Linked DNA regions of Homo sapiens. The protein of the gene in region 2 interacts with the protein of the main gene of each other region in a biochemical or structural test. Each region holds a gene or a part of one and is shown on either strand. Other genes may lie near its edges.

The links.
Region 1: the proteins of HSPG2 (region 2) and KDR form a complex in vitro, tested with the Homo sapiens proteins (2 studies listed by IntAct).
Region 3: the proteins of HSPG2 (region 2) and PDGFB form a complex in vitro, tested with the Homo sapiens proteins (one study listed by BioGRID).
Region 4: the proteins of HSPG2 (region 2) and NID2 form a complex in vitro, tested with the Homo sapiens proteins (one study listed by BioGRID).

What each region holds. Positions count from the first base shown.
Region 1 is NC_000004.12:55,108,580-55,115,602, reverse strand, and holds part of KDR (vascular endothelial growth factor receptor 2 precursor), read left to right. Parts: intron 1-191; coding exon 192-322; intron 323-560; coding exon 561-729; intron 730-1,337; coding exon 1,338-1,477; intron 1,478-2,121; coding exon 2,122-2,299; intron 2,300-4,834; coding exon 4,835-4,949; intron 4,950-5,036; coding exon 5,037-5,200; intron 5,201-7,023. UniProt on the Homo sapiens protein: Tyrosine-protein kinase that acts as a cell-surface receptor for VEGFA, VEGFC and VEGFD. Plays an essential role in the regulation of angiogenesis, vascular development, vascular permeability, and embryonic hematopoiesis.
Region 2 is NC_000001.11:21,822,288-21,829,310, reverse strand, and holds part of HSPG2 (basement membrane-specific heparan sulfate proteoglycan core protein isoform b precursor), read left to right. Parts: intron 1-231; coding exon 232-476; intron 477-884; coding exon 885-1,056; intron 1,057-1,158; coding exon 1,159-1,281; intron 1,282-1,391; coding exon 1,392-1,448; intron 1,449-4,085; exon of another isoform or gene 4,086-4,531; coding exon 4,532-4,607; exon of another isoform or gene 4,608-4,695; coding exon 4,696-4,774; exon of another isoform or gene 4,775-4,934; coding exon 4,935-5,005; exon of another isoform or gene 5,006-5,106; coding exon 5,107-5,190; exon of another isoform or gene 5,191-5,591; coding exon 5,592-5,695; exon of another isoform or gene 5,696-5,822; coding exon 5,823-5,995; 3' UTR 5,996-7,023. UniProt on the Homo sapiens protein: Integral component of basement membranes. Component of the glomerular basement membrane (GBM), responsible for the fixed negative electrostatic membrane charge, and which provides a barrier which is both size- and charge-selective.
Region 3 is NC_000022.11:39,241,971-39,249,475, forward strand, and holds the start of PDGFB (platelet-derived growth factor subunit B isoform 1 preproprotein), read right to left. Parts: upstream 3,013-7,505; 5' UTR 1,994-3,012; coding exon 1,931-1,993; exon of another isoform or gene 956-1,930; intron 1-955. UniProt on the Homo sapiens protein: Growth factor that plays an essential role in the regulation of embryonic development, cell proliferation, cell migration, survival and chemotaxis. Potent mitogen for cells of mesenchymal origin.
Region 4 is NC_000014.9:52,066,050-52,072,982, reverse strand, and holds the start of NID2 (nidogen-2 precursor), read left to right. Parts: upstream 1-3,923; 5' UTR 3,924-3,988; coding exon 3,989-4,216; intron 4,217-4,819; coding exon 4,820-5,125; intron 5,126-6,933.

The DNA.
Region 1 (7,023 bases), on a different chromosome or scaffold from region 2:
CACACACACATACACACACACCCTCATGTAGCACAGATATCTATCAGCAGAATAATCTGTGGATGCCTTTGGTTGTGTGAGGTGTCCCTTCCAGTCATTCACTTGTCTGGTTAGAGTTTAGGAACCTGAAAAATGACCAACTTTTCTAGTAAATACTATTAACTCATTAATAAAACTAAATTTTCTTCTAGATTACAGATCTCCATTTATTGCTTCTGTTAGTGACCAACATGGAGTCGTGTACATTACTGAGAACAAAAACAAAACTGTGGTGATTCCATGTCTCGGGTCCATTTCAAATCTCAACGTGTCACTTTGTGCAGTAAGTTGCATCTCCTCCAATCGTCTCTTAAGTTTTTATAATTTTAAGCTAATATTAAGATGGGTAACCTGTTTATAATATTCACAATGAGTTTTAAGGATCCTTTAGGAAGGGTCAAATGCAATGAATAAAACTAATTAGTATTCTTAAAAATAAGATGAATTCTTCAGTGATCATTGTACATGGCTCTCATTTTTGGTACTGGATTAAATATTTGATATGTCTTTTTATTACCCAGAGATACCCAGAAAAGAGATTTGTTCCTGATGGTAACAGAATTTCCTGGGACAGCAAGAAGGGCTTTACTATTCCCAGCTACATGATCAGCTATGCTGGCATGGTCTTCTGTGAAGCAAAAATTAATGATGAAAGTTACCAGTCTATTATGTACATAGTTGTCGTTGTAGGTAAGAGGACATTTCCTTTCCATATCATTAATAACATATCCTTGTATTAAGATCTTGGAGATAACAACATAGAGTGAAGAAGGATATTGAAAAGTATAGGAACTCAGGATATGGTGTTGGGCAATTCATCTGCTCTTCTCTACCAAATAAACCCATGTGCAATTGAGGTTGTCTCTTTTCTTGCCAAGATTAAGGAAGAAAAAGAAAACTTTTTAAAAAAAGGATGAAAGCGAATGGTATTACTCGAGCACATTTTATGAAGAATTCAATGTTCAGAGCATTGCTTGCTATCAATTATTTCAATTATGACTATTTTATGGAAACTTCAGCAATTTGCTAAAGCTGGCCCTACTGGCCTAGGGCTACTGACCACTGAAAGTTTACTACTTTTCTGTCCACTGGGTTACAACATCTTTGAGATCTGTGAAGGTAGTGCTTTGTAAACCTCTGTTGGCCATTTTCCTGGGAGCTACCAAGTATTGGTGAGGCCTGCAGGGAAAAACAATGTGGCATGTTTTAAAGTTGCATTACTTTAAAAAATAAATCTGTGCAAAGTTATAGGCTTATTTGCTCTCTCATGTTCTGTTTTTTCAATTTACTTGCTCTAGGGTATAGGATTTATGATGTGGTTCTGAGTCCGTCTCATGGAATTGAACTATCTGTTGGAGAAAAGCTTGTCTTAAATTGTACAGCAAGAACTGAACTAAATGTGGGGATTGACTTCAACTGGGAATACCCTTCTTCGAAGGTAACGCTAATGATTCAAAGCCAGACCTCCAAATACTTAGATAATAAGCCCCAGTGAAGTTTGCTTGAGAGATAGGGGCCTCTTTGGCCAGATAAAATGTAAGAGCCTTAAACACACACACATACACACCCACTCACACACACATACACACACACACAATTTAAGGGAATTGCAGAACAGATAGCACCCACCAAAAGGTGAAATACCAGGAATTTTGTCCTATTCTGCAATAGCCAGGCTATGAATATTAGTTTTCTCTAGGTGATTACATCTTTCCACATTATGTCATTTCTCTGTTCTCCAAAGTTTTTGATCTACATTCCTTTTAAGGGAATTTCTCTTTAAGAGGTGGCATGAGATACACTGCTCCTTAAACAGTGGTCACATTTACTTGTGTTTCTGCAGTTTATATCCATCTCACTTTCACCACGTGAGGTTTTAAAAATCCTAATTCAGTTGGTTCCATTTATTTCTCCTGAAACAAAATATATTTGTTGTCTGCATGAGGTTAAAAGTTCTGGTGTCCCTGTTTTTAGCATTAAATAATGTTTACCAAAGCCCAGATTTAATTCTGTGTGTTACTAGAAGTTATTGGGTAATGTTATATGCTGTGCTTTGGAAGTTCAGTCAACTCTTTTTTTCAGCATCAGCATAAGAAACTTGTAAACCGAGACCTAAAAACCCAGTCTGGGAGTGAGATGAAGAAATTTTTGAGCACCTTAACTATAGATGGTGTAACCCGGAGTGACCAAGGATTGTACACCTGTGCAGCATCCAGTGGGCTGATGACCAAGAAGAACAGCACATTTGTCAGGGTCCATGGTAAGCTATGGTCTTGGAAATTATTCTGTGCCTTGACAAGTGAGATAATTTAAATAAATTTAGGTCACTTAGTGATTCCTATTTTGTTCATTCAGAAGATAGTTTCTAGTTTTTCTTGTTAGGGAGGCCACATGACCTAGAGGTCAAGAGCATAGCTTTGTAGTCAGGAACTTGGGTTCAAACCTCAACTTTAAAGATGAGATGTGCTGATATACAGTAAGAGTTCATTTAGTATTACTTATTATAGTTATTGCTGCTATTAGGATTGTTACTATGATAAATAGTATTAGCTAAGGTAGTTTTTAAATTTTCATTTTATTGCAAGGCTGAGAGGCCTACTTGAATAAGCATGAGCTTTGCAAACTGGGGAAACATTTAGCAATATACAGTTGACCTGTGAGCAACTCAGGGATTGGGGGAACTCAGGGGAGTTCCCCTAACTTTCCCTCCTCTGCAGTCAAAAATCCATGTATAGGCCGGGCGCGGTGGCTCACGCCTGTAATCCCAACACTTTGGGAGTCTGAGGTGGGTGGATCACCTGAGATCAGGAGTTCGAAACCAGCCTGGTCAACATGGTGGAACCCCATCTCTACTAAAAATCCAAAAAATTAGCCTGGTGTGGTGGTGGGAGCTTGTAATCCCAGCTACTCAGGAGGCTGAGGCAGGAGAATTGCTTGAACCCAGGAGGTGGAGGTTGCAGTGAGCCAAGATCGTGCCATTGTACCCCAGCCTGGGCAACAAGAGTGAAACTCCTTCTCAAAAAAAAAAAAAAAAAAAAAATCAAGGTATAACTTTTGACTTCCACAAAACATAACTAATGGCCTACTGTTGACTGGAAGCCCTACTGATAACATAAACAGTCAATTAACACATATTTTATATGTTATATGTATTATATACTGTATTCTTCCAATAAAGCTAGAGAAAAGAAAATGTTATTAAGAAAATTGTAAGGAAGAGAAAATATATTTACTATTCATTAAGTGTAAGTGGATCATCATAAAGGTCTTCATCCTTGTCTTCACGTTGAGTAGGCTGAGGAAAAGGGGGAAGAGGAGGGGGTGGTTTTGCTGTCTCAGGGGTGGCAGAGGTGGAAGAAAATCTGCTTATAAGTGGACTCATGTAGTTCAAGTTTGTGTTATTTAAGGGTCAACTGTAATTGAACTGGAATTAAATTGAACTGGCCTTGAGAAAATCACCTTAATTTTTTGTTTATTCTCTTTCATTTACATAAATGTCTGAGTTTACATGGTAATTTGTGTGGCATCCTACTTATAAGCCTTGGAAAGGATTTTGGAGTTTATATTATGAGAATGCATCAATACAGTGAAATTTTAAAAATACCTTAGATAATGCTATTTATTAGAGTTGTAATCATAAAAGTGGCAACAACTATAACAAGTATGATTTAGTGAGCACTTACTTTATTAGCTCATCTCATCTTTGAAGCTGAGATTGGAACTCAAGTTCCTGACTACAAAGCTATGCTCTTGACCTCTAGGTCACGTGGCATCCCTAGCAAGAACTTGAAAATTTCTTCTGAATGAACAAAATAGAAATCACTAAGTGTCCTAAATTTATTTAAATTATTTCACTTGCCAAGATGCACTTGTCAAAATACACAGAGAGAGATGTGCTCTGGCTTATGTTTTTATAGAATTACTTTTGTTTTCCAGAATACTTCAGGGAAATAGGGGCAGAAATAAGGAGGTCAGTTGGGAGGCTAATTGCAGTTATCCAAGTGAGAGTTGAGGGGTGGCTTAGACAAGGGTAGTTGAGGTGGAGGTAGTGAGAGGTGATCTGCTTCTGGATATATTTTGAAGGTAGAGTCAACAGGGTCCGCTGATCAATTCATTGGTTGTGGAGTATAAGAGAAAAAGAGTGGAAGATGACTCGAGCGTTAGCATGAGCAACTGAGTAAATGATGGTGTTATTTACTGAGATGGCAAAGATCGAGAAGGCAGTGAGATTTAGGGAAACAGTGTTAGATATGTTTATCTGGAGATGCCTGTTAAACATCCAAGTGGAGATATTTAACATATCAACCCGGAACCCAGAGGAGTCAGGGCAGAAGATAACACATTTAGGAGGTACGTGAATGATACTTTAAACCTGAGGCTAGAGGAAGGTGTAAATAAAGAGGAGGTCTGAGGACTGAGTCCTGGGGCCTCATGGTGGAAGAGGTGTGTGGAGGCTGTCATGGGAGCAGAGGAGAAGGAGCACCCAAGCATCCCTGGGGGACTTAGAGAAAGCTGCACAGAGGAGCAAGTGTTTGAGTTGAGACTTGAGCAATCACTAGGCTTGTGGGAGTGCACTAGCGGGGAGAGAAAAGCAAATGCAAACACAGGAGGTGTGGGAGAAACACGGGAGGTGTGGGAGAAGCTGAAAAGTGACCCACTGAAAGATAGTACAGGAAATCTTGGAACTGCAGCTACTCAGACCCTCAAGGTCTTTGACGTTTCACTTGAAATGAAAAACTAAATCAAATGACCATTTACAGTAAGTTGACCTTTTTTTTTTTTTATTTTCTTCCAGAAAAACCTTTTGTTGCTTTTGGAAGTGGCATGGAATCTCTGGTGGAAGCCACGGTGGGGGAGCGTGTCAGAATCCCTGCGAAGTACCTTGGTTACCCACCCCCAGAAATAAAATGGTAACTACTGGAAATAAATGCAAAGCATCATTTCGTGTGAGAGCAAATCCTTTGACTATACTAATTCCTGAGAATTTTTTTTCATAGGTATAAAAATGGAATACCCCTTGAGTCCAATCACACAATTAAAGCGGGGCATGTACTGACGATTATGGAAGTGAGTGAAAGAGACACAGGAAATTACACTGTCATCCTTACCAATCCCATTTCAAAGGAGAAGCAGAGCCATGTGGTCTCTCTGGTTGTGTATGGTGAGTCCATTCAATTTTCCTCTCTGCCCAAGATTTATTATGATACATTGTCTTCCAAATCAGCCAAACCACCGTTCCTCTGCCTCCTGCTGCTTCACTCATATCATGGCTGGGCCTGCGTACAAAAGTCATCTGGCGTGGTGAAGCTGAAGTGAAACGTAGGACCATGTGCTCTGGCCATGTTTGTTTAAGAGGCCGTGTAAATGAGCTTTGTGGTGGACAAATGCAAGATTAAAGTAGTGATACCCTCGATAGCTAAATGTTGTGAAATAAGAATGCCCACAGGGACAGTTGTCAAGCTAAGTTATACTACCATGTTCCCCTCTCATGGAATTGCCCACCTGGTACACAGATGTGTAAGACCCTTCTCCTTAGATTTTGTGCAAAGCTTCTAGTTTGATGTTGTAGTTGATGTATCAGAGATGTGCAGGCACGTTCCAACTCTGAAGGCTTTTGAAGTTGACACTGTTGGCTTGGTTGGGAGCTTTTCTTTTTTCCTTTTTGACAGGAGTTCAGGATCTGATTTTGAGTCTGTAAAGGAAAGATAGTAAGTTTTTGATGTAAAGATAATTTGAACTTTGTTTTCTGAAACTGAAAGGTACAAATAAGTGTTTGGAATGGAGTGGGGAGAAGGGTGCCATGGTCAAGTGAGTGTGAGAGGTGCTAAGGTGATGTGTAGATGTGTAACAGGTTTCTTTATTGCAGGACTTCGCAGAACCTTTTATATGCTAATGTATATTGGTATTCTCCAGGAGGAGAGACATAGAGTATTCAAGGTTTAACAAACCTATTTGACCAGAGCACCTTTTTTCCCCTGAGCAAATTCATTAATCTCTCACTCCAAACAGTTTGAGAAATGCTTCTCTGTTGTAATTCTTTGTTCCCCCTTCTGGTACGGCATATTAAAACTTCAGGATATTTTCCCATGACATTAAGGTGCTTCCCTACGTGTCCTGATACTCTTCTGTAGGCCGCTGAACTTGGCTTTATTATTTTTTTTCAGGGAATATTTTAAAGATAGGCTGGGTGCCGTGGTTTGCATCTGTAATCCCAGCACTTTGGGAGGCCGAGGCGGATGGATCACCTGAGGTCAGGAGTTCGAGACCAGCCTGGCCAACATGATGAAAACCCGTCTCTACTAAAAATATAAAAATTAGCCAGGCATGGTGGTGGGCACCTGTAATCCCAGCTACTTGGGAGGCTGAGGCAGGAGAATCACTTGAACCCAGGAGGTGGAGGTTGCAGATAGCCGAGATCGCACCATTGTACTCCAGCCTGGTGACAAGAGCAAAACTCCGTCTCAAAAAAAAAGTTAACAGGTTCCAAAAAGGTTGTTTAGAAGCAGCATAGGTGTAGGGGACTGGGGAGAGGAGAAACTGGAAAGTGTATAAGTAGGATGGGAGGAGGAAATGAACAGGAAATAAAAACAAAACACGGACAGCAAATAGCCCATTTCATCAGTTCATGAAGCCACTAAATATTTTATTCACTTTAGCAAATTCTCTGCTATATGAAATAAACATAAAAAAGAAGTCAAGTCTTCAAAGCATAATCTGAGGCTTTAGGTTGACAGTAATAAGGAAATAGTTTTGACTTTGGAGTCAAAAAAGAAAGAAAGGAAAAAGGGAGAGAAGAAAGAAGGAAGTGAGAGAAGGGAGAAGGAAGAAAGGGGAAGAGGGAAAGGGAGTGGAGAGGGAGGGAGGGAGGAAGAGGGAGAGAGAATGAAAAACTCAGATGATGGTGGCAGGAATGCATTCTCTAAAGATTTACACCTTCCTTTAACATGAGGTGGTTTACGTGTTTGGGTTCAGAAGTCAGAGTGT
Region 2 (7,023 bases):
GGAGGCATGGGAGGATAAATGCAGGGATCAGGGCAAGTCCCCTCTTCCTGTGCATTTCGTCTCTGTGTCACTTGAGGCCAATCCCTAGCCCTCTCTGAGCCATGGGCTCCTCATCTGGAATACAGAAGGCTGTAGGGCATTCCCCATCTGCTCAGGGCCCTGTTTGTGGTGGAGAGGGCAGGGAGCCCCGTGTGCCCCCATGTGCCCAACCCTGCCTGGCATCCTCCCCAGGGCTGGCCGTTCTGCGGAGCGCCGAGCCGCTGGCCCTGGGCCGCTGGCACCGTGTGTCTGCAGAGCGTCTCAACAAGGACGGCAGCCTGCGGGTGAATGGTGGACGCCCTGTGCTGCGCTCCTCGCCCGGCAAGAGCCAGGGCCTCAACCTGCACACCCTGCTCTACCTGGGGGGTGTGGAGCCTTCCGTGCCACTGTCCCCGGCCACCAACATGAGCGCTCACTTCCGCGGCTGTGTGGGCGAGGTAAGAGCAGCCTCCTCGGGACAAGCGGGAGGGGAGGGGTGCCAAGCCTTGTGTCCCCCTCGGCTCTCCAAGCACCTTGGCATTGGGCCCCTCCACCTGCAGCCACCCACGGGCCCTGGGCCAGGACACTGTACCTCTGAGCCTCAGTTTCCTCCTCTGTAAAATGGGCATGATCACACCTACTTTGAAAGGTTGGGCAGAGGATTGTCTGCACTGACGGATGAATGTTTCTAGCACACAGTAGGCACTCAACTCCTGCGCCTCCCTCCCCACACCGAGAATCCATGCTACCACTCAGGGCCCAATGTGGGCTCCCAGCTCCCCTCTGCTGCATTCTTCTCCCTGCTGGTACACCTGGGTCTCTGCCTCCCAGGCCCCTTTAGTCCCTCGGTGTCCCTGTCCCCACAGGTGTCAGTGAATGGCAAACGGCTGGACCTCACCTACAGTTTCCTAGGCAGCCAGGGCATCGGGCAATGCTATGATAGCTCCCCATGTGAGCGCCAGCCTTGCCAACATGGTGCCACGTGCATGCCCGCTGGCGAGTATGAGTTCCAGTGCCTGTGTCGAGATGGATTCAAAGGTGGGAAAGCCTGCCCAGGGCACCGGAGGGGAGGGGCACAGGTGGTCAGCGACACCTCCAGCCCATGCCCACCCACCCACTCGCCTCTGCCCTGGCCCACAGGAGACCTGTGTGAGCACGAGGAGAACCCCTGCCAGCTCCGTGAACCCTGTCTGCATGGGGGCACCTGCCAGGGCACCCGCTGCCTCTGCCTCCCTGGCTTCTCTGGCCCACGCTGCCAACAAGGTACCCAGGCCTGGCTTCTCTCCACTTCATCTCTGTCTTGGGGCCCCGGAGCTCGACATAGTACCCACGGGTGTCTATGCCCACCAACTGGACCCTGCCCTTCTCCATAGGCTCTGGACATGGCATAGCAGAGTCCGACTGGCATCTTGAAGGCAGCGGGGGCAATGGTGAGTACTTGCCATGGCCTCCTCCCCAGCTTCAGCTCAGCTCACTCTTCCAGTTACCCCACACCCTCAATTCTGGCCTGCAAGCAAAACAGCTTTATATGAGGAGCTTGCTGGGCAGAGAGACAGAATGAAGACCACAGCCATGTGGAGCTAGGGCCTGCCCCACACTTACTGGCTGGGTGACCTTGGGCAGGCCTTTGAAACCACTCTGACCTCAGTTTCCTCCTCTGTATTCATGTATTCAGTCAACAAACTATTGTTGCCCATCCTTGCCCTGAGAGCAGTAAATATAAGATGCATAAAGCAAGACCCTCATTCCCAAGAATTCCACCGTCTACTGAAAAGCTAAGGAAACAGTGAAGAGTGAATGCTGATTGAATGTTTACGGACACTGTGCTAACCCCTTTACAGACACATCTCTTCTTATGTATCACTAATATAATAGGCGAGGCAGTGGTATAGTGGGTAAGAGTATAGACTTGGAGCCAGCCTGCTTGGGTTCAAATCCTAGCTCTCCCACTTACTAGCTGTGGAACTTTGGGTGAGTCGCTTAACCTCTCTGTGCCTCATATAAAATGGAGATGAGTAACATCTTTCCCTAAAGATTTGGATAAAATTTTATGTGAGAGTAAAATTACTTAGTGCATTTTTTTTTAAGGTGGAGTCTTGCTCTTTCACCCAGGCTGGAGTGCAGTGGCACAATCTCGGCTCACTGCAACCCCCGCCTCCCAGACTCAAGCGATTCTGCTGCCTCAGCTTCCTGAGTAGCTGGGATTACAGGTGCCTGCCACCACACCCCGCTAATTTTTGTATTTTTTGTAGGGATGGGGTTTCACCATGTTGGCCAGGCCTGTCTCTAACTCCTGACCTCAGGTGATCCGCCCCCCTTGGCTTCCTAAAGTGCTGGATTACAGGCGTAAGCCACCGTCCTAAAGTGCTGGATTACAGGCATAAGCCACCGCGCCCGGCCACTTAGTGCATTTTAAATGCCTAGAACAATGTGTGGTACAGAGTCAGTACAGAATGTTAGCTGTTGTTAATATTATGTTCAGCTGGCCGGGCACACTGGCTCACGCCTGTAATCCCAGCACTTTAGGAAGCTGAAGCGGGCAGATCACCTGAGGTTGGGAATTTGAGACCAGCCTGACCAACATGGAGAAACCCCATCTCTACTAAAAATACAAAATTAGCTGGGCGTGGTGGCACATGCCTATAATCCCAGCTACTCCGGAGGCTGAGGCAGGAGAATCGCTTGAACCTGGGAGGTGGAGGTTGCCATGAGCCAAGATTGCATGCACCATTGCACTCCAGCCTGGGCAACAAGAGCGAAACTCCCTCTCAAAAAAAAATACTATATTCAGCTGGGTATGGTGACTCACGCCTATAATCCCAGCACTTTGGGAGGCTGTGGCGGGCAGATTGCTTGAGCCCAGGAGTTCCAGACCAGCCTGGGCAACAAGGCGAAATCCTGTCTCTACAAAAAAATACAAAAAGTAGCTGGGCATGGTGGTGCTCATCTATGGTCCCAGCTACTCAGGAGACAGGCAGGAGGATTGCTTGAGCCCAGGAGTTCAAGATCAACCTGGGCAACACAGGGAGACCTCATCTCTACAAGAAATTTAAGAATTAGCTGGGTGTGGTGGCACATGGCTATGGTCCCAGCTGAGGCAGAAGGATCACTTGAGCCCAGGAGGTCGAGGCTGTAGTGAGCTACAATTGTGTCACTGCACTCTAGCCTGGGCAACAGACTGAGACCCTGTCTCAAAAAAATAAAAAATAAGGCTGGGTGCGGTGGCTCACACCTGTCATCCCAGCACTTTGGGAGGACAAGGTGGGTGGATCACCTGAGATCAGTTCGAGACCAGCCTGGCCAACATGGCGAAACCCCATCTCTACTAAAAATACAAAAATTAGCCAGGTGTGGTGGTGCACACCTGTAGTCCCAGCTACTCGGGAGGCCAAGGCAGGAGAATTGCTTGAACCTGGGAGGTGGGGGTTGTAGTGAACCAAGATTGTGCCACTGCACTCCAGCCTGGGCCACGGAGCGAGACTCCATCTCAAAAATAAATAAATAAAATAAAAATTATCTATATATAATATTCATTCATAGGGTTGTTGTAAGGATTGAGTTAAATGCAGTGGTGTCTGTAGCTGGATGGGACGCTCCCCGCACAGCCACATCATAGGTGTTAGGTAAATGTCAGCCGTTCTCCTCATCATTTGGTGGAGGGTAGCAGAGGGTCCCCTACTCTTGTCCCCTGCCAGAGCTACTGTGGCCAGTGCCGGCCTGTGGGATGGGTCATGAGCAGATAGGGCTGGGGGGGTGTGGAGCCACACACAGTATGGACATCCTGGGCCAGTCACTCGCCCAAGCCTGCCTGCTCTTCTGTAAGATGGAGAGAACACCAAGGCTCTGAACCATTTATTGCCACAGTCCAAGGTGACCAACGGTCCCAGTAGCTCCGGACTGAGGGGTTTCTTGGGATGTGGGACTTTCAGGGCTAAAGCCAGACAGAATTTGGCAAGTAGAATGGCGGGTCACCCGACACGGATCCTGTTGACTACACAAAATAAAATAAAATAAAATACATTGATTTAAGGAAAGCAATTATGCTGAAGTAAAGTAATCAAAACATGTTTTAAGTTTCCTGACTTGCTATATATGTGCTTCTTTATTAACACATCAAATAACAAGATCTGGTGATCTCAGTAGCTACCACAATTTCAAAGCAGCAATATGTGTAAATGATATTTTGAAATATTTGCAGCTACTGTCATGTGATAAGCAAATACTAGTAACAAAGTTGCAGGTCCTACCACTGCTACTTTGGTTTCTTGCCTACATCTCATTGAAAGAACTGCTCAATTTCAGTGAGAAGTGAGTGAAATTGAGGTGTAATGCTTTCCCATCCAAGGTCATAGGCTCCCTGAATTCTGTTGGCAGCCCCCGTGGGTCCCCAGGGACTGCAGGCTCGGAGCCCCCTAGTCCTGCATGTTGGCGTGGAGGTGGGGGTCAGGGGAACTGACGGGGGATTTTGATGCCTGATGCAGCAGGTATGGCACCACCCTCCTCTCTCCCACAGATGCCCCTGGGCAGTACGGAGCCTATTTCCACGATGATGGCTTCCTCGCCTTCCCTGGCCATGTCTTCTCCAGGAGGTGAGACTGGCATTGGAAGGGCCCATGGGCCTAATGGGGAGGATGGGAATCTGGGACTTCTGTCCCCTCACCCGCTCTTCCTCCGCAGCCTGCCCGAGGTGCCCGAGACCATCGAGCTGGAGGTTCGGACCAGCACAGCCAGTGGCCTCCTGCTCTGGCAGGGTGTGGTGAGTGTGGGTATCCGGCTGGGCTCTTGGGGCTCCTGGGGCAGGAAGCTGGCTTCCTGGTGGCCGGAGTGGTGGGGGGAGGGGAAAGCAGAGCCCCCTGGCCTCGGCAGCCTCTGCTCTCCAGGCTGGGGACCCCAGAGACCCTGTGCTTCCCTGGCAGGAGGTGGGAGAGGCCGGCCAAGGCAAGGACTTCATCAGCCTCGGGCTTCAAGACGGGCACCTTGTCTTCAGGTAGGTCCTGGCACCTGGCCCTTCCTCTCCCTTCCCTGGTCCCAGCACCCCACCCCCCGGTCCTGCCCCAGCTCATACTTCTTGGGCCTGGATGACTGCAGGTACCAGCTGGGTAGTGGGGAGGCCCGCCTGGTCTCTGAGGACCCCATCAATGACGGCGAGTGGCACCGGGTGACAGCACTGCGGTAAGGGACCCTGCCGGGCACTCGGGATGGGGCCCAGCGTTCTGGAGTGGGGCAGGACGCCCCCTACCATGGGCAGAGAGGCAGGTATTGAGCTCTGTGGAGACAGAACTTGAAGCCAGGGGAGGGGAGAACCCACCAGCCAGGGCTCGGGCTTCCATCTCGGACTGAACTCCGCTGGGGGCAGGCGAGTGCCCCAGGAGTGGGAGGAAACCTGGGTGCAGAAATGAGGAAGCTGTGTTTGTGGGGCCCGATCTCTCGTTCAGCGGGGGAAAGAAAGAGCTTGGGAAACAGGGACAGACTTCTGAGTCTGGAGTCTCGATATCAGAGGGAGGGGACTCTGTCGTGGGGCCGGGGAGGACCAGGAAGTTTGTGGAAAGGGGCCTGACCCAGTTCCACTGCAGGGAGGGCCGCAGAGGTTCCATCCAAGTCGACGGTGAGGAGCTGGTCAGCGGCCGGTCCCCAGGTCCCAACGTGGCAGTCAACGCCAAGGGCAGCGTCTACATCGGTAAGTCTGGGGCTCCTTCTCAGGGCAGGGGCAGGAACGGCACTCCCTTAGGGCTAGAGCTCGCCCAGCCTTCCTCGCCTCCTGGGCTGCTGGAGCCCACAGGCCCTGTCCTCTCACCTCCCGGCAGGCGGAGCCCCTGACGTGGCCACGCTGACCGGGGGCAGATTCTCCTCAGGCATCACAGGCTGTGTCAAGAACCTGGTGCTGCACTCGGCCCGACCCGGCGCCCCGCCCCCACAGCCCCTGGACCTGCAGCACCGCGCCCAGGCCGGGGCCAACACACGCCCCTGCCCCTCGTAGGCACCTGCCTGCCCCACACGGACTCCCGGGCCACGCCCCAGCCCGACAATGTCGAGTATATTATTATTAATATTATTATGAATTTTTGTAAGAAACCGAGGCGATGCCACGCTTTGCTGCTACCGCCCTGGGCTGGACTGGAGGTGGGCATGCCACCCTCACACACACAGCTGGGCAAAGCCACAAGGCTGGCCAGCAAGGCAGGTTGGATGGGAGTGGGCACCTCAGAAAGTCACCAGGACTTGGGGTCAGGAACAGTGGCTGGGTGGGCCCAGAACTGCCCCCACTGTCCCCCTACCCACCGATGGAGCCCCCAGATAGAGCTGGGTGGCCTGTTTCTGCAGCCCTTGGGCAGTTCTCACTCCTAGGAGAGCCAACCTCGGCTTGTGGGCTGGTGCCCCACAGCTACCTGAGACGGGCATCGCAGGAGTCTCTGCCACCCACTCAGGATTGGGAATTGTCTTTAGTGCCGGCTGTGGAGCAAAAGGCAGCTCACCCCTGGGCAGGCGGTCCCCATCCCCACCAGCTCGTTTTTCAGCACCCCCACCCACCTCCACCCAGCCCCTGGCACCTCCTCTGGCAGACTCCCCCTCCTACCACGTCCTCCTGGCCTGCATTCCCACCCCCTCCTGCCAGCACACAGCCTGGGGTCCCTCCCTCAGGGGCTGTAAGGGAAGGCCCACCCCAACTCTTACCAGGAGCTGCTACAGGCAGAGCCCAGCACTGATAGGGCCCCGCCCACCGGGCCCCGCCCACCCCAGGCCACATCCCCACCCATCTGGAAGTGAAGGCCCAGGGACTCCTCCAACAGACAACGGACGGACGGATGCCGCTGGTGCTCAGGAAGAGCTAGTGCCTTAGGTGGGGGAAGGCAGGACTCACGACTGAGAGAGAGAGGAGGGGGATATGACCACCCTGCCCCATCTGCAGGAGCCTGAAGATCCAGCTCAAGTGCCATCCTGCCAGTGGCCCCCAGACTGTGGGGTTGGGACGCCTGGCCTCTGTGTCCTAGAAGGGACCCTCCTGTG
Region 3 (7,505 bases), on a different chromosome or scaffold from region 2:
AAGGAAATGGGGCCGCTACAGAGGTGGTGAGGTGCCAGGGCCCACGGAGGGCCCACCTGTTGCGCGGGGGCGAGCACCAGGCGCTGGGTGCACGGGGGCCCGTGCGTGCCTGTGTACGTGCGTGGGTGTGCGCGCACGTGTGCTCAGGCCGCGCGTGCAGGGGCCGTGCGTGCGTTTGTGTGCGGTGCGCGCGCGTGTGTCCCGCGTGTGCACGGGCGTGGCAGAGGCGGGCGCGCGACCTGGCCGCGGTAGTGCGTGCCCGTCGCTCTGCGCGCCCGCCCGCCGGAGCGCAGCATCGCCTCCGGCCAGGAGTGTGCATGCGTGGGGTGAGTGAGCGAGTCGGGGGCCCGGGCGGGGTGGGCTGCGGAGAGCAGCCACGGGGCGCCGCCGTTCCCAGGACGCCCTGGCACCGGGCCCAGCCCCCAGGTCCCACGGCGAGGCGAGGCGGCAGCTGGGGCCGGCCGGCCACCCCCTCCCCAACAGCTGGCCGCGGCCCGGGGGGCTGCGGGAGAGGCGGAGAGGGGGCGTCGGGAGGGGCCTGAAGGCGGCCCGGCCGAGCCCCGCGTCCTCCCTCCCGGGTGCGGGCCGCGGGGGGCGGCCGCGGAAGGGCGGGGCCCCCGGGCGGGCGGCCTGCGGCCCTCGAGGAGCCCCGAGAACAAAAGGAGACGGCGACGGCTCCTCCGTGGTCAAAACAACCTGCGCTGGCGGCAGCCCAAGGCCGGGCCGCGGCCTCCGAGCCCTCCGCCTTAACCCCTTCGCCGCCGCTGCCTCCTTCCTGCGCCTGGCTGGAGGCCGCAGGGGCCGACCCTCCCCGGGAGCCGGCGAGGTGCGGGCGAGGTGCGGACTCCCGGCCGCAGCCGGGCGGAGGTGGGACGGTACCCAGTCACGCCGCGCTCCCGGCTGCCCTCTCCTCCCCTCCACCGCGCGCGTCGTCCTGCCCCGCCCCCTTTCCCACCTGGATTCCGGGTAGACTTGCCAACTCACGGCTACGTGAGGCTGGGAGGGGTGGGGACGGCTCCGACCCCAGCGCTCCCTCAGATGTTTTTATACCCCATCTCCCGTGCAGCTAGGCTTTTGCAGGCGGCGCGCTCCGCACCCTGCATGCGGGGGAGAGAGGTGCTTCCTCCTGCAGGGCGCGGGCACAGGTACGGCAAGGCCTCAGGCACACAGCGCCCCGGGGGCTGGATTCCTTCAGAGCCCCTAGTCCTCCCCCTACCCGAGTGCCCGAAACCTACCTGCGTCTCTATCTTTCTCTCCCTCTCTCTCTCCGTCTCTCTCTCCGTCTCTCTCTCTCTCTCTCTCTTTCTCTCTCTCTCTCTCTCTCTCCCTGTTACTCCCACCCCAAACCCCGCGCCCGAGACACAAGCTGCTTCCAGACCGTGCTCTGGGGCCGGGCATGCCCTGCGCGTGCCGGAGGGCGTCCACCCGGACCCCGACCGGGAGCCAGGGTGGGACCCGAGCCCCGTCAAAGGTCGGCGTGGATGGCACCGGTGCGCAAGCTTGCACCTCCTGGGCAAGCCGATGGCAGGACAGAGCCTAAGCCGAGGCTGGCGCCGAAGTGGGCTCGGGAGGACGCGCTGCCTTCTGCACCCTGGGCACCACCCCACCCCCTCTCCCCCGGCCGGGAAGGGGCTTGTTCTCGGGTTCCCAAAGGGTGGGGGACAGGGCCACACACACCCTCCCCCGACACGGAACGGCTTAGGGAGCCAGATTCGCCCGCCGGTTGGAAAGAAAGCCACCGCTGTTGCCTTCCCTTAGAGCCTGTCACCCCCGGACCTCGCTCCCAGCCCGAAGAGGTCACCCAGCGCCCGGCGTCAGGCTCGCGGGCTGCAAGGGTCCAAAGTTCACTGCAGGGAGAGGAGGGGGCGGTCAGAAGGGGGGGGCGAAGGTAATGAATGAAGAACCAGCCCCAGCCGCCGTGGCAACTCACCTCGGCGCTGACCAGACGCAGGTAGCAGCAGAGAGACAGGAAGAGCGCCCAGCAGCGATTCATGCCGACTCCGGGCCCGGCCCCGCGGGGCCCCGGACGCGTAGATCGAGCGCGCCGCCCCCGCGGCCAGGGTGGGGGGCTGGGGAGGGGGGTGGGCTCGGCTCGGGTCCGCGGCGATCAGGCGCTCAGGCCTCTGCAGCCGCGGCTCACCCGCATGGCCCCCGGGCGCCGCCGCCCCCGGCCCCGGCTCCGTCGCTGGGGGGCAGGGGAGGACCTGGGCGCAGGACCTGGGTCCGAGGCCGCTACCTGGGCGGATCCCGAGCCCGAGTGAGCATCCACGGCCGGGGGGCTGCGTCGCGAACCAGCCGAGGCGTCTAGCCGTGTGGGGGCGCCCAGGGGACTCCAACCTCCAAGAGGAAAAGGAACACGGCAGTCGATGGTTCGTCTTCACTCGCCGGCTACAGGCGTTTTCCTCTGCCCGCCGGCTTAGCTTTTTTGCAACATTTTCTGGAAAGGCCCCCAAAATCGGAAAGCGCGGAGCTGGGCACCTCAAGGCCCAAGTCTCCCCCAAAAAACTTTTTCCAAAGTTGGCTTTGCAACGGCAGCTCGAGCACCCGGGCAGGGAGAGGTGCAAACTCCCGCCCGGGCCGGGTAGGGGGGCGGGAGCGTGTGCGCCCTGGCGCGGGGCCCGGGCGGCGGGCACGGCTGCTCCGCGCGCGCGGCGTGCCCGCTGCGCGCTCGGCTGGGCCCGGCCGACAGGTGGACGCGGCGCGAGTCCGTCGGTCCGTCTGCCCGCCCGCTCGCCGCTCTGGGCGTCCTCTGCGGGCTGCGGGCTGCGAGCTGCGAGCTGCGAGCTGCGGCTGCTCCGGTTTTCTCTTTGCAGCGAGGCTGGAGGGTGGGCTTTTTTTTTTTTTTTTCCTTTTTGCGCGCGTATGTATGTGTGTGCGCGCAAAGTATCTCTATCTAGGGAATGAAAAATGGGCGCTGGCGGCCGGAGGGGAGCCCTAGGGAGGCAGCGGGGGAGGCTGCGGGTGCGCAGGGAGGCAGGCAGGCCGCTCCCGGCTGCAGGAGGAGAAGTTGCCACCCTTTCAGCTGTTCCGGCCTTTATAAAGGAGAAGGGAGAGTGCGAGAGGTGGGTGGAGACAGCCTTTCCTCTTCTGGCCCGGAGTCAGCGCCAGGAGGGGGGGGACGCGGGAGCTGGGGGAGGGCTTGGGGCCAGGGCGGGGCGCTTAGGGGGTCTCTGAGAGCCGAGCAACCCTTCAGTCCATGAATCTGGCCCTGGGGAAAAAAGAACTAGGGGTGACCCACCGTCCCGCCCCTCAGCACAGTGACCATGGACAGGTTAGGAGCCCACGTGGTCTAGGGGGATGTCTCCAGAGCCAAGGCCAGGAGTCCACGCTCCCCTCCAGGACCAGACATTTCCACCCTGGCACAGGCATGGCAGGGAGGGACTCAGGCTCTGCAGTCTGAGAGCCTGAATTCAGATCCTGCCCTGGCACTCGGGAGCTTGGGTCACCTTGGGCAAGTCACTTCCCTCTGTCCCCTCCATCTAGCCTCAACCTGGAGATGGGGCTATTGTAAGGACTCAGTGTTAGCAAGGGAAGACACCGCAAGGTGAACCCACAGAACCCGGCAGCCAGCGCCCTTCAGCTGCAAGCTGGGTCCGAGTCTCCTCCTCCTAGCTGGTTGCCTGGCACAACAGGCCCTGCCAGCGTTGGCTGAATTTGAATTTGTTGAACTGCAAAGTCACACAAACCCCCACAGCCCTGCAGCATCTTCGCAGGGCTACCAACATGATCTTCCCGTCAGTCACCCTGCTGTTTACTATCTCCCTCAGCCCCCGGGTTCGAGGCCCAGAGCCCACCCACCCACAACCAGCCTTCACACAGTTAACGCCTTCTGCCCCCAGTCAGGGAGCTGCTGTGTCCCTGCCTTCAGCAGTCACACTGTCTCAGTCACAGTCACACGTACTCACACTGGGCCCAGCACCCCCCTCGGGACACGCAGGCTCCTGCATCACCCAGCCTCCCGGCTTTGAGGCACCCTCATCTCCTCCGCTTGCACTGTCTCTGTTATCCGCCCTTCCCTTTGGGATGTCAGCCTGCTTCTCACAGAGGAGCACACTGAGAGAGTCACACCTGCTCTCTCTTCATAGACTGTCTTCTTGGACCTGGACAGGGTGGAACAGAGGAGGAAGGACATCTCAGGTGGTCTTTACAGACCACTGCAGGCACCCACCCACTGCTGCCTACCACCCAGCAGCGTGGCACAGTGGCAGAGACACAGCCTGAAGACACATCACCTTGGTCCAAATCCTGGAGTGGCCACTTGCTGGACAAGTGTCTGCAGGAAGGTTTTTTAACCTCTCAGTACCTCGGTTTCCTCCTTTATAAACTGGAGATGAATTTATAAACTGGAGCTGGGTGTGGTAACAAGCTCCTGTAGTCCCAGCTACTCAGGAGACTGTGGATCGTTTTGAGCCCAGGAGTTTGAGGCTGCAGTGAGTTGTGACTGTGCCACTGCACTCCAGCCTGGGCAACAGAGCAAGACCCTATCTCTAAAGAAATAAAAATAAATCTATAATGGGAAGGAGTGAGAGAGAACAGAGAGGCATGGCAAAATTTTAGTGGTGATGGAAATGTTTGTCATTTTTGATTGTGGTGATGGGCTTATGGGTGTATACGTACATCACAACAAAATGTGTGCAGTTTGTTGTACCTCAGTGCAGTTGTAGAGAATTTTTACCCTGCTCCTGGAGTGGTCTGGAGGCTCCCATGAGGTCCTCCATGTGGAGGCGCTCAGCAAAACACCTTAGCAGGAAGCAAGCGCCTGGAACCTTCCATGCAGCCTTCAAGTTCACTGGTGGCCCCGCACTGCTCCAGGCACTGGGGAGACAGGTGTGAACCAGCCTAATGCAGGCCCCTGCCTTTGAAGAGCCCCATTGAGAAGGACAACCAGATGTATAAACAGATAAATTAGGAGACAGGGTGACAAGGGAGATGGGGCAGCGGGACGAGGAGATAACCCCCAAACACTAGATTTGAAGTCTAACGACTCAGAGATAAAAACCCTCTTCCACCGGACAGCTGGGTCATTTGACCTTGACCTTCTGTGTCTTCTATAAATAGAATGGTAACAACTACCATGATTAGTGAGCTGACTATGTGGTAGCTAGTGTTTTTCTTACTCTACCTGTAGCCTCTCCATGCTCCTGTGAGATGTGTTATTCCTATCTTACAGATGGGGAAATGGAAGCACAGAGAGGCCAATACACTTGTTCAAGGTCACACAGCCCGTAAGTGGTAAGGCCAGGACTTGAATCTGAGCAGTCCAGCTACAGAGCCCACATGCTGAGACCACCGTGCTGTGCAATTTTCTGGCAGGTGATGCTGATGACAATGATGACACTTTTGACACAGCGCTTTGGTGAGCGCCACATGCATTAATATGTGGGAACCTGCTCTGCCAGCTAAAAAGTGATGGACCCATATGAACTCTGACTTAGGTACAAGTTGAGGGAGAGGGAAGGCTACTCAGAGCAGCATCGTAGAACGCCTACTGTTTGCAGACCCTGTGTGAAGCGCTGAGAAATGGAATGAGGAAGGAGTCCCAGCCTCGGCACTCAGGGACTTCCCATGCTCTCAGTGAGATAGACCCAAATCATTGCAGTGCAGGTGCCAGTACATGGGTTAGAAGTGGCAGAAGAGGGCCCAGCAGACACCTGGGCCTGAATGCTACGTGACACCTGCGTGACACCTGGGCCTGAATGTTGTGCTAAGGGCTCCTTTCTTGTACCTTCTCTGTGCAGAGGAACAGTCTGTAAAGAACACCTCCCCAGGCACGGTGGCTCACCCCTGTATTCCCAGCAATTTGGGAGGCTGAGGCCAGAGGATCATGTGCAGCCAGGAGTTCGAGACCAGCCTCAGCAACATAGCGAGATCCCATCTCTTAAAAAAAATTACCAAAAAAAAAAAAAAAAAAAAAAAAAAATATATATATATATATATATATATATATATATATATATATATATATATATCTGAGTGTGGCCCCAGCTACTCAGGAGGCTGAGTCAGGAGGGAGAATCCCCTGAGCCCAGGAGTTCAAGACTGCAGTGAGCCATCTCAGAGACGGGGTCTCGGTCTGTCGCCGAGGCTGGAGTGCCGTGGTGCGATCTCTTCTCACTGCAACCTCTGCCTCCCAGGTTCAAGCGATTCTCCTGCCTCAGCCTCCCGAGTAGCTGAGACCACAGGCGCCTGCCACCATGCCCAGCTAATTTTTGTATTTTTAGTAGAGACGGTTTCACCATGTTGACCAGGGTGCTCTCGATCTCCTGACCTCAAGTGATCTGCCCCACTCAGCCTCCCGAAGTGCTGGGATTACAGGCATGAACCACCACACCCAGCCTAAAAATTTTTTTTTAATAACACCTGATCGTCTGCCTCCTGCCAGGCTGGGTGTAGCAGGCACCTCCTCCAGAAGGCCCACCAGGCTTGGCACTTGTTCCAGGCTCCACAGCATGCACACCTGGCATCGTCATGGCCTGATCATCAATCTAGCACTAGACTGAGTCCAGAGTGTTCAAGGGCCTCCTGCCAGCTCCTAGCATACAGTGGCTGCTCAGGAAGTGCCGCTCGCTGAAGGAATGAATAAATGATTAAAATCCTGCCAATTTCTCTTTCTGAGTCCTGACCAGTTATTGCAGAGATGCCAGGCCCTTCCTAAAGGGTGGAAAGAGTTGGGGAGGGGCTTGTAGCATGAGCCTCTAAGCTTGGAAGCACAGGGCCCCTGAAGGGCACCCCTTCTGGAGGTATCAGAACTGGGAAGGGTCTGAAGCCACACCACCCTGAATGCACGTGGTCTCATCTGACCTCGGAACTTCATCAGGGCTGGGTCTGAGGAGCACTTGAATGAGAGAACTGGGAAGGCCCCCGCCCATCTTCGCGTTCAGGCCACTGGGAAATAAGGTTCTCCAGCAGAGCTAGGGATGGGGGCGCCCACACCCCCGTAACTCTCCACCCTCCACTCCAGGACAGATCTGAGCCAAAGGGAAAAAGAGTGGCCACAGCCGTGGGGGATGGGGGTGCTGCCCAAGGTTGGGGGCTTTTTAGACTGTGTGCTCAGAGCTATCCAAGCCCTCATCCATGAAGAGCATCTTACACCCTGGGCGTGGGGGTCCAGGACACTGGCTGGGGTGAAGAAATACCAAGGAAGGAGTTGGGTTCCATCCCGGGGGCAAACTCACGCCCTCAAGTCCAGAAAGGTGAGAGCGATGATCACTGGGAGCCTCCCCGCCACTGAGAGGGGCCAGCAACACCTGGGCCAGGCAGCTCTGCTTCTCCATACTTGATGGAGAGGAAGTGAGGCTCTAAGCTGGAGACCGTCCAAGACCATGCCACAAATGGTCTGAAACTCCAAGCCCTACCCCACTCCGCGTGGCCCTCATCAGCTCCCCCATGCCCCTTGCTGCCCCATCCCCTGCCTCCCTGTCTACAGGGCCTTTGGCTGTCCACAAAGCACTTCCTTCCCCTCTGCCTGCCTCACCCTCACAGTCGCCCAGGGAGAAGGCATTGCC
Region 4 (6,933 bases), on a different chromosome or scaffold from region 2:
CTTTTAAAAATAATATCAGAATAAAAGCTCAAAGGCATGTTCTCTTAAGCACAGCTGTCCAAAGCCTCCTATTTCAGGGAGAATTCAGCCACTTTATGCAGACAGGAAAACAAAACTGTTCGTTTTAGCATCTTCTCTATTGGAACTATTTTTTTGTACTCAGATTGCATCAGATTCAAAACTAGTGACATCCTCTTATGCTCTGTTTCCCCAACCAGATCATGAGCTCTTTAAGGTCAGGGGCCACATTTTGTACTCCTTTATTTCTTGCAGAGTTGTGTTTGTCATGGTGTACTTTCAGGAAATTGTTGTTGAATGGATGAATGAATGAAAGAATGACAAAAATGGGAGAGCAGTGGTAGGTGAGTTGCTAGGCAGCCTGGTAAAGAGGATTACAAGAGTCAGGTCAGATTAGCAGGAAAGGTGGTGTAGGGGAAAGAATGTTGCATTCTGAGCCAGCAGACATGGGTCCTAGTCCCAGGCTGGCTTGCTTGTCTTCACTCATTCAACAAACATTTCTTACACTTCAAGTGAGCCAGGCAGGCATTGCGGCAGACACTGAAGAAGGCAAAATCCCTGCCCTCCAGGTGTGGTGGTGGTGGTGGTGGTGGTGGTGGTAAGGGAAGCATGTGGAGATCAGGATTATGGGAGAGATGTGTGATAGGAGGTATGATCACGGCAAGCACAGGGCACATGGAAGCAAGGAGAAAGGGCTTCTAAATCAGACTGTGGATTCCAGGAAAGCTTCGTCCACCTGAAAGGAAAAGACAGAGGCACAAAATATAACAAAACATTTACTTGAGCCAAAGTGAGGACAGTTGCCCGGAAGACTTAGACCCAAGTAACCCTGGATATGAGCTTCATGCCGCCTTTATTACAAGCAGGTTTTTTACAGGCAGAAAAGGGGGACAGGGAGTAGGCCGATATGAAATTGTTTGTAAGGAATTCACATTGGTTTACAGAAACAACATTGCTCACTGATTGGCTATGCACTGTTAAGCTATAGGCTATGAGTGATAGTGTCCAGTGTGACATTATTAGGTTAATGTATAGTTACTTGTGGCAATAGCAAGCAGTTTCAAGGATGAATACATAGCTCAAAAGGGGGCAGTAGTGTTACTGGAAAGAGTTCCTGATCCAGACCCTAAGAGAGGGCTCCTGGATCTGGTGCAAGAAAGAATTTGGAGTGAGTCTACAAAGTAAAGTGAAAGTGACTTTATTAGATAAGTAAAGAAACAAAAGAATAGGCAGAGCAGTGGCGTCGGCTGCTTGACTGATTATACTTATGGTTATTTATTGATTATAAGCTAAATGGGGTGGATTATTAATGAGATTTTTGCAAAAGATGTGGGGAATTCTTTTCTCTTCCCAGATTCCTGAAGGAGGAGGGTTTTGATTCAAGCCTTAAAGATGAGAAGGTGTTGGCTTGAAATTGACCAAGAAATTGACCTTTTACTGTAGGTAAAAGGACTTACCTGTGAGGATGTTGTATTGGAGAATTAAAGTCTCAGCTTCAGGTGAGACTTCAGGGTGGCTGTGACGGGAGATAAAGTTAGAGACATAAACTAGAGCTACTTTCCAAAGGGCCTTGCTGCAATATAATTTAGTGGTTAGGAGTGGAGGTTTAGAGATCAGACAGAATTGGGTTCAAATCTCAGCTTTGGTACTTACCAGCCATGTGATAATAACTGATTTTTTTAAAATCCCATCTGAGCTTTAGTTTCCTTAACACAACGACTACCTGTTATCAGTTGTCTATTGCTGCATAACAAATTATCCCAAAATGTAATAGCTTAAAGCAACACACAGCTTCTTCAGCTTCTGAAGCTGAAGCTGTAATTCTCAGTTTTGGTTGGTCTGGAATCCCACCAAAACTATAATTATAATCTAACCAAAACTATAATTCTCAGTTTTGGTGGGTCTGGAATCTGCACCTGGCTTAGCTGGGTCCTCTGCTTCAGGGTCTCTTGCAAGGCTGCAATCAAATGTCAGCCAGCGCTGAGATACCATCTCAAGACCCAACTGGGGAAGGATCCGTTTCCAAGCTCACTGACATGGTTGTTGGCAGAATTCAGTTCCTTGCTGACTGTTGGCCAGAGGCTGCCCTCCTCAGTTCCTTGCTATGTGGGCCTCCCCGACATAACAGCTTGCTTCATCAAAATCAATGAGAGGGAAAGTCAACTAACAAGGAAGAAGCCACAATCTTATTTAGCCTTCTTCTCATCACTCTTGCCACACTATGTTTGTTAGAAATCACAAGGCCAGTCCACACTCCCAGGGCAGAGATTATACAGGGGAATGAACACCAGGAAATGGGGATCATTGGAGACCATCTCAGTGTTTGCTTGCCCCAAAGCTCATAGCTTAGTACCACTAAATAAATGTTAGTTATTATTATTATGCTGAATCGAGAGATAAAGTAAAACTACAGAGGGCCAGTAGTTTTATATCAGGGAGTAACTTCAGATGATGTTGGGCAAGTCAAGTCATCTGTCTTTGAACTTTCATTTCATCCTCAGTAAAATAAAAATACCTGACCCCAGAAAGAATGAGAAAATATATGTGCAAGCATAAATATATTTTTGGAACATCAAATATACAACTCTCCACTCTGAGGAAGCAAACTGCTTTGGGCCAGTTTTCCATTTTGTGTCTGCTCTATGAGTCTCACAGTCTGATGTCTTCACGTTTTTTAGCGTTTGGTCCAGTGGGCCCATAGGAATAAACACCTACAAAGAGCAGTGTGTCTCTGGAGAGTCCTTTAAGGCATTTCCAAGGATTTGCTTTTTGGTTTTTTTCTTTCTTTCGTTCTTTTTAAATATCTTTGCTTTTAAGGACCTCATGGGGGGCCTGGGAGAGAAAACAGACTGTCTGGGAAATTTTAAGCTCTTGATAATAAAAATGGTAATAAAATCTCCTCCAGCTCCTGAGGCTTCGCAGAGGGGATGTTTATGGTGGATGGGGTTCCCCTTCTCCTGCGCAGCTGGTTTCGAGGTTGTGCGGTTTCCAGTCCTGCGGAGCAGCTCAGGTTACCGCCTCCGTGGCCGCGGGGGAGGGCATCTCCGACGGCCGCAGCAATGGGCAAGAGATCAGGGTCTTCCCATCCCCGCGACTCGCCCCTTTCTGCCTGGTAACCAAGCGGGATGCCTCATCCTACTCCCCAAACGGAGCGGATCACACACAGTAGTATTTCATGGTCTTTCCTGCTGCGGTTTTCCCGGGGGAAGGTACTTCCAGAGGGTGGCCAAGTCTTCCCTAGCGGCCGGCCTTCGGGAGGGGGACAGAACTTAGGAGTCAGCCCTCTGCCTTCGTACAAAGGCTCGCTTCTCCTCAGGGCGTCTCTGGGTGGAGCGAAGCGGCCGAGGGGACCACGACAATGTCCCTTTGCTTTTCGGACCGATGGCCAGGCCTCCAGAGCCAGGAGCGCCCGGGACCCCAGGGCAGGGAGCAAAGCTCATACCGCAACCCCGCCACCCGCCCGCGCCCTGCCAGCCTGTTGGGGCCACAGCGCGCAGGCCAGCAGCCGCACTCGCCGCTGCGGGGTTCCCTTTGCGCTGAGCTCATCTCCTGCAACGCCGCTGCCCCAAACCTTGCGGGCCATTTGGTCCCGGGGGTGGGGCTCCTTGGGGGCCGCGGGGCAGCCCGGATGAGAGGATGACCCGGGAGCTCCCTGGGGGCGGAGTGGAAGGGGCAGCTCCAGGCAGCCCTGGCCAGGAGCTTTTACCCCGCCAGCCCCGCTGCTCCAGCGGCCGCTGCCTTAGAAAAGTTAACGAGAACCAGATGTGGTGGCCACTGCCGAACTTTCTCAGAGCCGGTGATTGGTCCCCAGCCGAGGGCCTCAGCCAATTAGCTTGCTGGGTGGGCCTGGAGTCCCGCCCCGCCCAGGCGCCCGCGGAGATCCAGGTTCGAGGCTGGCGCGGCGCGGAGAGTGGGCTGGAGGCCGGGGCGGGACGCGTTGTGCAGCGGGTAAGCGCACGGCCGAGCGAGCATGGAGGGGGACCGGGTGGCCGGGCGGCCGGTGCTGTCGTCGTTACCAGTGCTACTGCTGCTGCCGTTGCTAATGTTGCGGGCCGCGGCGCTGCACCCAGACGAGCTCTTCCCACACGGGGAGTCGTGGGGGGACCAGCTCCTGCAGGAAGGCGACGACGAAAGCTCAGCCGTGGTGAAGCTGGCGAATCCCCTGCACTTCTACGAAGCCCGATTCAGCAACCTCTACGTAAGTTCAGCCCCCTCCTGGCACTTTTCCCGCAGCTTCTTCCCTGGGGTCGGTCTCACGGAAACCCTGCCTCCAGAGGGGAGGAAACAGACCCCACTCCTGGAGCCCCCCAGCACCCTTGCGGTGGTACCCGGCCAGAGAGCGATGCCGCTGCCTGCCCCGCTGCTGTAGGGGAGCAAGAATGACCTGGAGGGGAGAGCAAGAATTGTTCGCAGCCACGTACGCGTCCCAGGCAGAAAAGGTGGCGTTGCTAGGGCGGCCAGCGGGCTTTGCAGTTAGGACCGCGAGAAGGCTGTGCCCGTCTGCGGAGCTGGGGTGTTCCCTCTTCAGACCTGGAGGCTTCCTCTCCGAGGACATGGGGCTCCGGGGTTGTGAGGGGAGTGAGAAGATAGGTGAACGAGTTTTAGGGCCCCTGGACCTACTGCAGCGCGGAGCTGGGACAGTCGCAAAAGTTGCGCTTGTTTCCCTGAATCCAGACTCCCTGGCCAGTGGGGAAGGAGAGAGAGGCTTTTTGCCTAAGTCAGTTCCCTTCCCTCCCTGCGCGAAAGGGTAGCGTCCTTGGGCTTGAGCGACTGTCACCTTTTTGTCCCTCTCCTCTCCCAGGTGGGCACCAACGGCATCATCTCCACTCAGGACTTCCCCAGGGAAACGCAGTATGTGGACTATGATTTCCCCACCGACTTCCCGGCCATCGCCCCTTTTCTGGCGGACATCGACACGAGCCACGGCAGAGGCCGAGTCCTGTACCGAGAGGACACCTCCCCCGCAGTGCTGGGCCTGGCCGCCCGCTATGTGCGCGCTGGCTTCCCGCGCTCTGCGCGCTTTACCCCCACCCACGCCTTCCTGGCCACCTGGGAGCAGGTAGGCGCTTACGAGGAGGTCAAGCGCGGGGCGCTGCCCTCGGGAGAGGTAAGTGACCAGGGATATTTGACTGCTGAGGAAATTGAAGGATGGGCTTAAATTCTGGGGCAGCGACCCAGGGACTGGCTCGGAGTTGTTTCTGAGCCTACTCTTGCGCTGAACCTGACCTTGGAGGCAGCAGGGCTGGAGTGGCTTGGGAGTGAGGAAAGACGTTGTCTCTAGGCATCTTCTGAGGCCCTGGCAGGTGGTCACTCCCTTGAGGAAAAAAATGCTTAGCGGATATGAGAGCGGGAGTGCAGATGTGGGAGCCCCTTTGAACATAAGGCAATTTACTGTTTGGTTGCTTATTTTTAGAACCATCTCTAAGTATACAAGTATTTCTAATTATATGTTCATTGAAGGGGAAAAAATCAGAAAATACAGATAATTTTAAAAAAGAAAACAACCACTCATTTTCCCACCACTGATAAACATTTTTCTGCGTACATTTTCAGAGTTTTTTCTTCTGCATATCTTTATTGCTGTCTATTAACAATGATGAGTTTACACTGCACATACTGTTTTATAACTTGCTTTTTTCACAGAATAGTGTATTGTAAATATGTTTCAATGTCAATAAATGTATTTCTACATCATTTATAATGATGCATACTACTGTATCCTGCTATTATCCTGTATAATAGTGGGTGTACCACAGTATGCTCAACCAGTGTTGGGCCATTAAGGCTTTTTCTGGTTTTTCATTATTATAAATAATAGCGTGAATCACTTTTTAAAAAGCTAAATCTTTGCACATGTTCTTAGTTGACATTCCAGGAAGTGCAATTGGTAGGTCAGAGAGGATGCACTTTTGATAAAGTTCTTGATAACTTCTGCCTAATTGCCTTCCAGGTACCAGTTTACAAGTTTCTTAGTTTATAGGAGTCTGCCGTCAATGTGCTTTACAGTCTCTACCTGCGGAAAGTAAAAAATTCCAGGCTCCTGGTCTTTAGTCTTGTCATCAACATTTGAAGTCCTCCAAATGGATATGAGTGGGGCCAGCGTGCTTGGTAAATGGCAAACTGCCTCATTCCTGAAGAAAGTAAGGGCTTCCTTCTATGGAATTAGACCTGAATCTAAAATACCATACTCTAGGGGCTGAAACCATATGATTCATCTCAATTTTAACTTACGGAAATGCTTCTTCACTATAGAAGGATGGTACATGCCCCCTGTAAGAGGTGAGGTTGCTTGCCCATGTCACTGATCTCTATCTTGTAAGGATGCTGTGACTTATATCTTTTGTATGGGGACTCTTTATTTTTTAATTTTTGAGGGTACATAGTAGGTGTATATATTTATGGGGTACATGGGATGTTTTGGTACAGGCATGCAATACGTAATAATCACATCTTGGAGAATGGGGTATCCATCCCCCCAAGCATTTATCCTTTGTATTACACACAATCTAATTACACTCTTAGTTATTTAAAAATGTACAATTAAGTTATTATTGACTATAATAACCTGTTATCACAGGTTATAGTCACCCTGTTGTGCTATCAAATGGTAGGTCTTATTCATTCCTTCTATTTTTTTTTTTTTGGTACCCGTTAACTGTGTCCACCTTCCCCTGACCCCTACTACCCTTCCCAGCCTCTGGTAACCATCCTGTTACTCTCTATGTTGCATAAGGACTCTTTAAATGCAAGGTTTTTGGAATTAAAACTTTTGTCTGGTCCTTTTCTGGGGTGGGGGAGGTTTAGGGTAGAAGAGATTTGTAAATTCCATCTCTCTTTTACTTTTCTAATTAAAATCCACCTGCAGACATTACCATTTGCTAGTTGGCTTCAGAATGTTTCATTAAGAAAACTAGA